Linked DNA regions of Homo sapiens. The protein of the gene in region 1 interacts with the protein of each later gene in a pairwise test. Each region holds a gene or a part of one and is shown on either strand. Other genes may lie near its edges.

Evidence for each region.
Region 2: the proteins of SDCBP (region 1) and CLK3 interact in binary tests that used the Homo sapiens proteins (3 or more experiments, as listed by UniProt).
Region 3: the proteins of SDCBP (region 1) and SSC5D interact in binary tests that used the Homo sapiens proteins (3 or more experiments, as listed by UniProt).
Region 4: the proteins of SDCBP (region 1) and TSN interact in binary tests that used the Homo sapiens proteins (3 or more experiments, as listed by UniProt).

What each region holds. Positions count from the first base shown.
Region 1 is NC_000008.11:58,556,261-58,559,760, forward strand, and holds part of SDCBP (syntenin-1), read left to right. Parts: intron 1-3,500. UniProt on the Homo sapiens protein: Multifunctional adapter protein involved in diverse array of functions including trafficking of transmembrane proteins, neuro and immunomodulation, exosome biogenesis, and tumorigenesis.
Region 2 is NC_000015.10:74,628,269-74,630,701, reverse strand, and holds the end of CLK3 (dual specificity protein kinase CLK3), read right to left. Parts: intron 2,099-2,433; coding exon 2,019-2,098; intron 1,761-2,018; coding exon 1,670-1,760; intron 996-1,669; coding exon 819-995; 3' UTR 501-818; downstream 1-500. UniProt on the Homo sapiens protein: Dual specificity kinase acting on both serine/threonine and tyrosine-containing substrates. Phosphorylates serine- and arginine-rich (SR) proteins of the spliceosomal complex.
Region 3 is NC_000019.10:55,512,436-55,515,935, forward strand, and holds part of SSC5D (soluble scavenger receptor cysteine-rich domain-containing protein SSC5D isoform 1 precursor), read left to right. Parts: intron 1-575; coding exon 576-737; intron 738-3,500.
Region 4 is NC_000002.12:121,762,151-121,765,650, forward strand, and holds part of TSN (translin), read left to right. Parts: intron 1-854; coding exon 855-934; intron 935-2,983; coding exon 2,984-3,217; 3' UTR 3,218-3,500. UniProt on the Homo sapiens protein: DNA-binding protein that specifically recognizes consensus sequences at the breakpoint junctions in chromosomal translocations, mostly involving immunoglobulin (Ig)/T-cell receptor gene segments.

The DNA of each region.
Region 1 (3,500 bases):
ACCTAGATCCCTTGCATGCACAATTCACAATAGGGTTCCTGCTCCTGTGAGAATCTAATGCTGCCACTGATCTGACAGGAGCTGGAGCTCAGGTGGTAATGCTGGCTCACCTGCCACTCACCTGCTGTGGGTGGCCTGGTTCCCAATGGGCCACCGACTGGTACTGGTCCATGGCCCGGGGGTTGGGAACTCCTGTTTTAATAGCTTAGATTAAAAGAAGCAAATAAACATTATTTCACCTTAAACAGTCACATGTCATTTTTAAGGGAGGCCAGTTGTAGTTGGTGGTTTGAGAAGGGGTGAGGTTAATAACTCAGAAAATGATGAGTATTGCCATTCTAGGTGATATTATTTGGAAAACTTTGCCAGTGTTTCCTACTTCATTAATCAGAATATTGTGTCCAGAGAGCGAATAAACTAGAATTCCAAAATATCACATAAGTATTTAAGTTGAGGGCCTTCGTTCTGTACACATATTTAAAGACTTCAAGGAGGTTACTCTTATATTGCCCTGAGGGGGTTGAGGGACAAATGGGAAACTTGGTACTGAGGCAGACAATATATAAATACATATATATATAAAATGTATGTATTATATATAACATATATAATACATATATATTATAATACGTATAATACGTATTATAATATATTCTAATTATATATAATATATATTATTTATGAATAATATATAATGATTTATATATTATATATAACATAATATATATTGTATATCATACTATTATACTATATCTTATATACTATATTATAAGTATATAAGATATACTTATTATATACTATATTATATAGTATAGTATAGTATAATTTATACCATATATTATATATTATACTATTATATACAATATAGTATATATTATATACAATATTATAATATATAATTATAATGTATATTATAATATAATATAGTATTATTATATATTAATATTATATTATTTATATATTCCAGGAAAATGATATTAATTTTAATCAATATTTATATTTAAATATTTATATTTAAAATATTTATATTTAGATATTTATATTTAATTATATATAAATATAAAATATATAAATATAAATATATAAAATATATAGATATATAAAAATATATAAATATAAAAATATTTATATTTAAAATATAATAATATAATGTAATATAATATATATTATATATAATACATATAATACATATTATATAATACATATTATATATGTTATATATAATACATATGCACACACACACATATATAATATATATATAGCCTTTTGGTGTTCTGAAAAAGTCCGAAACTATCCCACCCACTGAAAGATCTCTTAATAGAAACTATTTGTGAGTTACTTCTGAGGCCTGAGATACATTGGGTGTAGGGGCCTTTCATAATGCATGAAGTGAGTCACAGAGATTGCAAATAATGTAGTGTGGGCCAAACCTGGTCAAAGGGTATGTGGGCAGTACCATTTCTTTCCAAGGAATTAGGCCAGTGGAAAAAAGCTGTAGTGGTCAGGAAGGTTTGATCAAACCCTTAAAGAGTAGTGGGAGTTTTATCTTCTTAGTGATTACTCAGCTCGAAGGAAAGCCTAGAAACAAAATTCTTTAGTTTAGTTCGTACAATAATAATGTTTGATAAGAGTTGCAAGTGAGGTAAAATGAGATTCTTCCACTGATGTAATAGTTACTTTCAGAATCCTCTTAAACCTCATTATTGGTCATTATAAAATTCCAGCCACAATTAGAAGGATTTCCCAGAGTTAGCTTTGTGGTTCTTGAAAAAGGGCTGTGTTTCTAACAGTTCCCATTAGGTCAAAGATTTAAATATAATGTACAAGTGACTTAATGGAGCCCTTCAGAAAAATAAAGCATTTATCATTTTCCTGGAAGGCTTTTTACACTGTTAGGTTCAAAAGTACGGACTTGCCCTAAGAATATTTTGATCTTTTCAATAAGTGTTTAAAGATATCTTATTTACTGTTGTTTTGATGACATTTGTCAAAATACTAACATTTGGTATCTTCTTTTTAAAAAGTTTTTTTTATTGGTGAGACAGGGTCTCAGTCTGTCCACCCAGGTTAGAATGTGGTGGTGTGACCACAGCTCACTGCAGCCTCAACCTCCTTTGCTCAAGTGGTCCTCCTACCTCAGCCTCCCAAGTAGCTAGGACTACAGGCATGTGCTGCTGTCCCTGGCTAGTTTTTTATATTTTTTGTAGAGATGGGGTTTCTCCATGTTGCCCAAGCTGGTCGCAAACTCCTGGGCTCAAGTGATCCACCTACCTTTTTCTCCCAAACTGTTGGGATTACAGGCACTGCGCCCAGCTACATTTGATATCTTTGAGGATGAGGAAAAAGTGTTTATGCTGTGTAAATAAACTAAATTGAGTCCTGCCTTCAAGTAGTGGAGATAAACATGTACTAGCTATAATCTGAGGCAGAGTTGAGAGGAGTTGGGAGGAGCAAATAATATCCAACTGAAGCCTTCAAAGTCACCCTCTTTTAAGAAGTGACACTTGACCTATGCCTCAAGGCTAACTAGGATTTTGATTGGTGGAGAAGTCCTGGAAGGACATTCCTGGAAGAGAATGCACCTTTTACAAAAATATGCAGGCATGGAAGCATGTGACCTGGGTGGCAAATAGTCAGTGGTTTGCAGCTACAACATTTTAATACGTGGAAAGAAATTTAATGAAATGGGTCAAGAAAGTAAAATTGAGGAATGCTTTGTGATTTAAAAAACAGTGAGAGTTAATTAAGATCAGTACACTTAAAGCAAACCTGAAACTTACTTTTTCAGAAGTGTAAATTACGGTAATATTTGTTATTTAAAAAAAATTTTGAAAGTCCATTTTTCTTCTAGGCTTGAGTTGCTGGTGTGTGAATTAACTCAAGAGTTGTTCAGACAACTTCAGTTAATATTTATTTGAAGAGAAACTTCTATGGAGAGAAAAGTTAGGAAACCACTTCATTTTTCATGAGAACAGTGGGATTTTGAAGTTAGCCAATGACAGAATCAAAAAAAGAAATCAAAAATAGAAATAATATTAGATGGCCAGGTAACATTCTTTTCAGTGCATTTTGGTTGTTGATATTGCAACTTGCTTTGCATTTTGTATATTATATATCATATGCATTTTGTTTATATTGATAGAATGGCTGAAAGTTTAAATAAGGCAAAAAATTGTGTTTAGGGAAAGGCTGCTAGGAAATTGATCCTTTGAACCCAAAGAAGATAATTCACTTTGTTCTCCTGGATTAATACAATTAAATCATATTTGATAGTGCTCTCTCAAGAATGTGAATTTTTTTTTTTTTCTCACAAACCCAGATTCTGTTTTTCCCTTAAGGACTGTACCAGGCCACTACTATTCACCATTGTACTGGAGATTATAGCCAGAGAAATTAGAAAAGAAACAAAAGATGTGTAATAGCAGCAAGAAGGTGCAATAGAAAGCTCATATGCTTCTTCTCCCCACAGAAATACTGATTCAATAACAATACACACACCA
Region 2 (2,433 bases), on another chromosome or scaffold:
CTCTGTCTTCAGTTCTTTTCAGGGGCATCCTGCCCATAGTACCCAGTTCCCAAGGGGCCCCCAGTCACGTGGTGAAGCCTAGCACTCATGCAGCTCTTAGGGAACCAAAAACCAGCACTGAAATAAAGCTGAATGACTGACTGAGTCCTGTGCCGTGTGACTTGCTCTGTAGGCTGTCATGAGGTGCTGTCTGTCCCAGCCTAGGAACCCGCCCCACTCGTCTCCTGCCCTCAGCAGGCCATAGTTGTTGGGCACATACAGCCTAAAGTCCTGGCCAGTAATGGGACTGGCAGGCTGTGGAAAACCAGACCCCACCTGGCTAGCCACGGTGGGCTGATTCCCTTAGGTTCTCTGGGGCTGAGAGGTACAGAAGCCAGCAGGGCAGAGGTGCCATCTAGGACTGCTCAGCAGCCTGGGCCCAGAGGATGTCCCCAATTCTGGTCTTACCCCTGCCTAGCTCTTCTGTGCCTGGCCCAGTTCACACTTAGCTCTCCACAAGCTGAACTGCTAAGAAAGACTTTATTAATAAGGTCAGGTAAGGGGAAGGCAAGGAGCCTGGAGATGGACACACTGGTACCAGGGGTTACAAACAGTAAGAAACACTTTATTATAACTTTATAACATATAAATAGCTTGGGTCAAATCTGTGCTTTCTGGCAGCTGGGCACCAAGTCTGCTCCCCTGCAGGCTCCTGCCTTCCTTCACATTGCACTGTTCATTGGGTGGCTCTGGCCTGGGGCCTGGCGGTCGAGGCTGGAGTCAAGGGGCTGGGCGGCCCAGTCCCGCCCTCCATCTCCTCATGCGGTGGCCTGTGCCTGTCATCTGCTTGGGTTGCGGCTGGTGTGGAAGGACCGCTCCTCAGGGGTCAGGCCAGCAAAGAAGGGGTGCAGCAGGGCCTCGGCCAGTGTGATGCGCTGGGCAGGGTCAAATTCTAACATCCTCCTCATCAGGTCAAACAGCTGCACGTGCTCCAGGGAGTCTTGGAGCATGTAACTCTGCTCAGGGACACAAGGTGCCTCAGTGTGACGGCAGGGTCGTGGGAAGCCACAGCAGGTCCCCTTGCCTCTGGGACGCCTTGCTGGACTGGATCGAGGAGGCAGTGATGCCTCCTTGGAGGACTCTACTTCCGCCCTCCTGGACAATGAGCAGCTCCTTTCCTTTCATGCCTGTTTAACGTTTTGCTCGGAACTTGCCAGGCTACTAGGTGTCTTGCTGGGTTGATGCCTCTGCCCCCACATGCAAAGTCCTGACAGGTGGGTAGAGATCACCTCTGCGAAATTCACTTGTCCGAGCACCAAATGCAGTTGACAGAGGCTTCCTGGCCATGTCTAGGTCTTCCCTCCCCCTCACCTCAGTCCTGCCTAGTTCTTCCCAAAATTTCGAGGAGAGAGAGGGACAGGAAGCAGCAGGGCTTCTGACATCTGGCTCTTCTGGTGTTCCCCAATTACATTCATAGCCACCCTATGGGGAAGGGGTAGGGCTAAGGGCCCCTCTGGGGCAGTTTGCAAGAAGCCCCATTGCCAGCACCCAGCAGTCTTGGGTGCCGCCTCCCATAGAGCTGGATCAAGGAGGCAGCCTTTAGCGGCCTGGCCTGTCTCTGCTGTATGTCTGCCCAGTGCCTGGGGTCTCTCCTTGGCATGAGTTCAGCTGGGGGTAGCCAGAAACTGACCTTCAGAGGTTTGCAGTTCTCCTTCACATACCGGCCGTCAGAGCTGTTCTCATCCCAAACTAGGCCCCCTTTGTAGAAATATTTCTGCTTCCTGAAAATTAAGGGGGTGGAGTCAAGTGTGGGAGTAGTAAGGGGACAAGCCTCTGGTGGGAGGTGGGGAAGAGCAGCTCCCAAGACAGCAGCAGAACCAGGGCAACAGGTCTGCAGGGGCACACAGGGAAGGCTTTTAGGAGCCTGCGGAACCATGGACTGTCCAGCAAAGACTCACCACATCCAGTACCCTGCTGACCCACAGCCAAGAAGAGAAAGGCCTCTATACCAACCCTGAGGGGGCTACTGGGGTCCTTACCTGGTACGGTGGATCATGTGTGATGGGATGGGCCCTAGGATCTTCTCCATCATCACCAGGTGCTCTCGGTTTTCGTGGGTCTGTGGAAGATTAGGGACAGTGCAAGGGGGTCAGTACTAGCTCTGGCCCCTTCAAGGAGAAAAAGGAACAAGAAAGATGGGCAAGTGCCCTCACTGCCCCAGGACATGCAAACCTACCAATGAAGCGGCAGCCCCAGCTTCTCCTGCCAGCCTGTGCCTAGGCTCCTCAGCCCTTGTGGGTGGAGGTGGACTGGGCTGTGACTACATTTCTCTCTGGTTAGCTCTTCACTCCCTGCCCAGAACATGCCCTGTCCCAGCCCATCCCGATGCCTTTAGTCATCTGTGCCCCTTATCTAGAAGGTCAGGTCACCTCCTACCCCATCCTCCATCCTCGA
Region 3 (3,500 bases), on another chromosome or scaffold:
TTTTCCCCCGCTAGGGCAGGAGCCTTGAGGAATTAAAATAATAAATTCCTTTTTTTTTTTTTTTGAGGCGGTGTCTCGCTCTGTCACCCAGGCAGGAGTGCAGTGGCACAGTCTTGGCTCACTGCAACCTCTGTCTCCCAGGTTCAAGTGATTCTCCTGTCTCAGCCTCCCGAGTAGCTGGGATTATAGGCGTGTGCCACCATACCCAGCTAATTTTTTGTATATTTAGTGCAGATGGGGTTTCTCCATGTTGGCCAGGCTGGTCTTGAGCTCCTGACCTCAAGTGATCTGCCTGCCTCAGCCTCCCAAAGTGCTGGGATTACAAGCTTGAGCCACGGCGCCAGGCCCAAATGCCCTTCATTTTATGTGCTAGTTTAGTGACCGTTTCCGTCGTTGGTAGCCAAAAACATCCCAGCTGAATGGAGAAGGTCTCCACGAGGTCAGGTAGGGCTGCAGTGGCGGTGCAGTTGAGACGGGATGATGCCTGAACTGGGGCTGGCCCAGGAGGAGAGAGACGGGGAGTCAAACTCAAAGGGAAGTTGGAAGACTCAATCCTCTTCCCCATATCTCTCTAGGCAGCAAAGATGGTTACAAGCTTCCCTGGACGTGGGACACACCATCAGGAAGGGGCCTGGCTGAGGGGACCCCTACCGCAGGCAAACTAGGACCAACTCTTGGGGCTGGCACCACCAGGAGCCCAGGCAGTCCTCCAACTCTGAGAGTCCATGGAGACACAGGTGAGACACGTGGCTGGGGTGAGGAGACTGGGACGGTATTTGTCCTGGGGTAAAGAGACAGATTCCAGACTCCCCACTGGAACCCTTACCCCAGAAAGACTCAGCAGAAATATACCCTAAAACAAAGGGTTATCGGCTGAGCATGGTGGCTCATGCCTGTAATCACAGCACTTTGGGAGGCCGAGTTGGGAGGATTGCTTAAGCTCGGGAGTTTGAGAGCAGCCTGGGCAACATGGTGAGCCCCCCAAGATATGAACATTAGCTGGGTGTGGTGGTACGCACGTGTGGTCCCAGCTGCTTGGGAGGCTGAGGCAGGAGGATCCCTTGAGCCTGGGTGCTCGAGGCTGTGGTTGTGCCACTGTATTCCAGCCTGGGTGCCAGAGCGAGACCTTGTCTCAAATAAAGACAAAAACAGAACCAAGAGGTTATTATCTAGACCGCTGGTCATCAACTAGGGTCGATTTTGCCCCCAAGGGGAATTTGGCAATATCTGAAGATATTTTGGATTGTCATGGCAGGAAGTGAGAGGCTACCCATTGGCACCTGATCGGTAGAGGCCGGGGTGGTGATAAACATTCACAATGCACACGACATTCCCCATAACAAAGAACCACCCAGCCCTAAATTACAATAGTACCGAGGTTGAGAAACCCCAGCCTAGATGGCATAAGTCACTGTGACAAATAGGAAAATGATAGGAAACCCTAGATGAGAAAGAGGAAAACAGGTGATTCCCAGAAAAGGAAGCCCAAATGGCTGAGTGTATTTAGAAATGCCCACGCTCATCAGGAACCAGAAAATACAAATTAAAACAATGGCAAGTACAGAGGAGAATGAGAAAGGTGGGTATTATCCAGTGTGAGTGAGGATGTGGGAAGACAGGCAACCCCACTGGACAGAGCTGTTTGATAAAGACAATCCAGCAGTATTTAGTAAAGTTAAGCATGATTAGGCTGGCTGCAATGGCTGACGCCTGTAATCCCAGCACTTTGGGAGGCTGAGGCGGGCAGATCACGAGGTCAGGAGATCGAGACCATCCTGGCTAACACGGTGAAACCCTGTCTTTACTAACAATACAAAAAATTAGCCAGGCGTGGTGGTAGGCACCTATGGTCCCAGCTACTCGGGAGGCTGAGGCAGGAGAATGGCGTGAACCCAGGAGGCAGAGCTTGCAGTGAGCCGAGATTGCGCCACTGCACTCCAGCCTGGGCAACAGAGTGAGACTCTGTCTCAAAATAATAATAATAATAATAATAATAATAATAATAATAATAATAATAATAATAGGTGTGGTGGCAGGCGCCTGTAATCCCAGCTACTCGGGAGGCTGAGGCAGGAGAACTGCTTGAACCTGGGAGGCGGAGGTTGCAGTGAGCTGAGATCGCACCACTGCACTCCAGCCTGGGCAACAGAGAAAGACTCTGTTAAAAAAAAAAAAAAAAGAGAGAGAGAGAAGAAGGGAGGAAGGGAGAAAGGAGGGAAGGAAATCTGCATGAGCTCCATGACGTAGATCTATAATTTTGCCCATTTCTCAGATGAGTGAAATTGAGGCACAGACATCAGTGACTCTGACATCAATAATTATTAGAGTGCTTATTCCATGCTAGACATTACACTAAGTGCTTTGCACAACCATGGTCTCCCTGAGTCCTTTTGACAGCTCTGCAAGGGAGATACGCGGATCATCCACAGTCTATAGCTGAGGAAGAAACTGAGATTCAAGCAGTGAAGTAACTTGGCCGTGGTCACCCCGCTAGGAAGCCATGCAGCTGGGGTTTAAACTCGGACAGCCTGCCTTGAGCACAAGCCCTTTACTTAACCGCTTCTCCAATCCTGCAAACAAAGGACAAGGTGGGGAAGGGATGCGCCTGAAAGACCCTGCCCTGCAGGAACAAGTGGAAATCTGTAGATCTGTGTGGTTCAATACGGTAGCTAAGAGCACCGGGCATGGTGGCTCACGCCTGAAATTCCAGCACTTTGGGAGGCTGAGGCAGGCAGATCACCTGAGGTCGGGGGTTCAAGACTAGCCTGAACAACATAGTGAAACCCCATCTCTACTAAAAATACAAAAAAATTAGCTGGGCATGGTGGCACATGCCTGTCATCCCAGCTACTCAGGAAGTGGACACAGGAGAATCACTTGAACCCAGGAGGCGGAGATTGCAGCGAGCCAAGATCGCGCCACTGCACTCCAGCCTGGGCAACAGGAGTGAAACTCCGTCTCAAAAAAAAAAAAAAAAAAAAAGTTAAATGAATTAACACTTTGAAAATGAAACATTTGCCGGGCGCAGTGGCCACGCCTGTAATCCCAGCACTTTGGGAGGCCGAAGCGGGCGGATCACGAGGTCAGGAGATCGCGACCGTCCTGGCTAACACAGTGAAACCCCATCTCTACTAAAAATACAAAAAATTAGCAGGACATGGTGGCGAGCGCCTGTAGTCCCAGCTTCTCGGGAGGCTGAGGCAGGAGAATGGCATGAACCTGGGAGGCAAAGCTGGCAGTGAGGCGAGATCGTGCCACTGCACTCTAACCTGGGCGACAGAGTGAGACTCCGTCTCAAAAAAAAAAATAAAATAAAATAAAAGAAAATGAAACATTTAGTTTCTCATTCACACTGGCCGCATTTCAAGGGCTTGGTAGCCACATGTGGCCAGTGGCTACTGTATTGGCACGGTAGATCACAGCGCATTCCCATCACTGCAGATGTGAGATTTCATTGCCTAGACTCTATGTGCAAACAACTTGGGTTCAAGTCTTAGCCC
Region 4 (3,500 bases), on another chromosome or scaffold:
CCCGGCTAATTTTGTATTTTTAGTAGAGATGAGGTTTCTCCATGTTGGTCGGGCTAGTCTTGAACTCCTGACCTCAGGTGATCCGCCTGCCTCAGCCTCCCAAAGTGCTGGGATTACAGGCGTGAGTGACCGCACTCAGCCAATTTTTTGTATTTTTTTAGTAGAAACAGGGTTTCACCATGTTGGCCAGGCTGGTCTTGAACTCCTGACCTCGTGATTTGCCCGCCTTGGCCTCCCAAAGTGCTGGGATTACAGGCATGAGCCACCACGCCTGGCCTTTTCCCAAATATTTTCTATCCATAGTTGGTTAGCGCAGAGGGCCGACTCTACCTGGAAATGTAAAAGCTAAAAATAACAATGGCAAACACATTTGCACTTGCTTTAGTTTTTAAAATTGAATTTTTAAAAATTTCAAGCCTACAGAAAAATTGAAAGAATAGTACAATGAATACCTGTTTACATGCCACTTAGATTTACCACTTGTTAACATTTTGCTACATCTGCTTAATCTTCTCATTTTGTGTGTGTCTTTGTCAGCCATTTGAAAGTTGCAAATATCGTAACTCCTTTCTGAAATGCTTTATCATGTGCTTTCTAACAAGAAGTATATTCTGTGACACAACTAGATACTGTTTTTGATAGTATTTTTGAGGGAAGACTGAATTGAATTTTGCTTAAGAACTCAAAAAATCCATAGTGAGGTCTAGTTGCCAAGGTTGTGAATATATTAAAAAGCCAGTTTTTAAAAGATTCATCCTTTCTTCACTTACTTTGGGAGAAATTATGTGTATATTTTTATATTCTGAGGCTTAACTTGCATTCACAGCATGACTTTATTTTCATGTGTTTTTTAGTTGAGCCAGATCGGGAGAAAGGATTTCATCTGGATGTAGAAGATTATCTCTCAGGAGTTCTAATTCTTGCCAGTGAACTGGTAAGCTCAGTAACTTGCTGGTTGCTTTTTTGATCTTTCTGCTTCACTGTCAGTTTTTTTTTTTTTTTTTTTTTTTGAGACAGAGTCCCGCTCTGTCGCCTAGGCTGGAGTGCAGTGGCGCAATCTCGGCTCACTGCAAGCTCCGCCTCCCGAGTTCATGCCATTCTCCTGCCTCAGCCTCCTGAGTAGCTGGGACTACAGGCGCCCGCCACCACACCCGGCTAATTTTTTTTTGTATTTTTAGTAGAGACGGGGTTTCACCGTGTTAGCCAGGATGGTCTCGATCTCCTGACCTCGTGATCCGCCCACCTTGGCCTCCCAGAGTGCTGGGATTATAGGCGTGAGCCACTGTGCCTGGCCCACTGTCTGTTTTTAAAATGGGTACCAAAATTCAGAACGTCTTAATTCTTTTCTAAGCCATCTCTCGGTCACCAGGTAGTCACTGACTGGCACTGTATGTGTTACAATTTACTAGGCATCAGAGAAAAGCCAGATCAAATGATGAGTGCATACTTACTGAGTTAAGAATTTTTAACCGATGATAAGACCTCTTCCTTTTAGGGTAGTGGCAAAACATTTATTCCTGGTAACTGTTAATCCATGTAATTGTTTTGGACACTCATTTGTCTATATAACTAAGTTATTCTTATCCTTTATTCCTTTAACCACTATCTAGGGAAATTGCCCTGTAAAAGTCTAAAGAAAAAAAAAGCTGTCAGTAGCAAAATTGAGTAGTTGTGATAGAGACTGTGCCAGTCTGCAGAGGTGAAAATATTTACTATCTGGCTCGTTAAGAAAAAGTTTGCTTGTCCTTGCTCCAGAGGAAAGCAGTCCAGGGCTGGTCTGATGATTCCTTGATCTTTGGCCCTAGGTTCTTCTAGCTTCAGCTTCTTTCTTATGTTCCAGAACTGTTGCTCTAGTCACATCTTCACTCTAGCCAGCAGTAGGAGGAAATAGGGAAAATGGTATGCCCTCCCGCTTTAAGGACATTTCTTTGAAGTTGTACACACAACTTCTGTTAACATTCTGGTGCCTTGCCTGCAGGGAGGCAGAAATGGAGTCTATTGGAGTGGGTATGTGTGCATTGAAAACCTGAGGAAGATGGTGAGAATGGATGATGGGGTCCACTTGTAGGCTGTACCACTTGTCTGGCTTGTTGGAGACACCTGACCAGTAAACAGGAAGCATCTTGTTAGTATTAGTTAAGTGTAAGGTGTCTTTAGGACCATACATGTTGGGGCCGGGCACAGTCGCTTACGCTTGTAATGCTGGCAGTTTTGGAGACCAAGGTGGGAGGATCCCTTGAGGCCAGGAGTTCCACACCAGCCTAAGCAACAAAGCAAGACCCCTTCTCTATATTAAAAACAAACAAACAAACAAAAAACCCGTATGTTGACAGTGCACTAAAGGGGTAAGCCTGGAAAAGTGGAGAGGATTTTACAGAAAGGGGAATCTTTTTTATTATTTTAATATATTTTTTAAAGCCAGTCAAATGGAGCAGTAGGGGGTTGTATACTGACACCGAGAAGGGGAGTCTTGGGTTGGGTCTTGAAATCAATGTTAGTTCTCCTTCAAGACAGGGTTACACTAACATAATTTTAGATTCTTATCCCAAGTCTGCCTTACTTGATTCTAGGTGACTGGAGTTGCAGCTTAGTAGGTGGGCTCTAGAAATGTGATCATTTGGCCAAGGTTGGAAGAGGTAGTGGAGCTGCTGTGATTATTTTGTCGTTTCTTTCTTCGATATGATAGCAGATGAGCTGTAAAGATGCTTGTGTAATGTAACACTTTATTATGCAATAGCCAGTTTAAGAAATTAGAGAAATTTTAGATGTTAGTAATGTTAAATTTTACTTGGCAGAACTGGTCTCATTTTCAGTGGGATTCTTTTCAGAGAAGCTCCTGTCTTGTCTGTACTTGTGTGTACCCTGAGATAGAAGATCAGCGTGGCTGTCTAGGCTTGCGGTTCTTCTGGTTGTGATTCAGAGGAAGATGCGCTGAGAAGGAGCCATGTTGTAACAAGCCCCTGTTTTCTCTTTCCTGGTACAGTCGAGGCTGTCTGTCAACAGCGTGACTGCTGGAGACTACTCCCGACCCCTCCACATCTCCACCTTCATCAATGAGCTGGATTCCGGTTTTCGCCTTCTCAACCTGAAAAATGACTCCCTGAGGAAGCGCTACGACGGATTGAAATATGACGTGAAGAAAGTAGAGGAAGTGGTCTATGATCTCTCCATCCGGGGCTTTAATAAGGAGACGGCAGCAGCTTGTGTTGAAAAATAGGAGGCTCTCCTTGCTCCTGGCCTTGCTGACCTCAGCGGTTGCCAGGAAGGGGTGAGCACAGAGTGCCTCTTACGGTAGTTAGGATGCTCAGTTGCTAAACACTGCGCTTTATTTTCTTAACCAGTTGTGGTGTGAGTATCAGAATTGAAACACTTTTTTGGGGGTAAAAAATATAGCCTTTACATGGACAGAATTTTTTTTGTTGTTTCAGTGAATATGCCTGTAATTCAGTGTATTTCAGTTCCGTCAGAAAGTGTAAATGTTAGTTTCTTGGTAAAGTCCT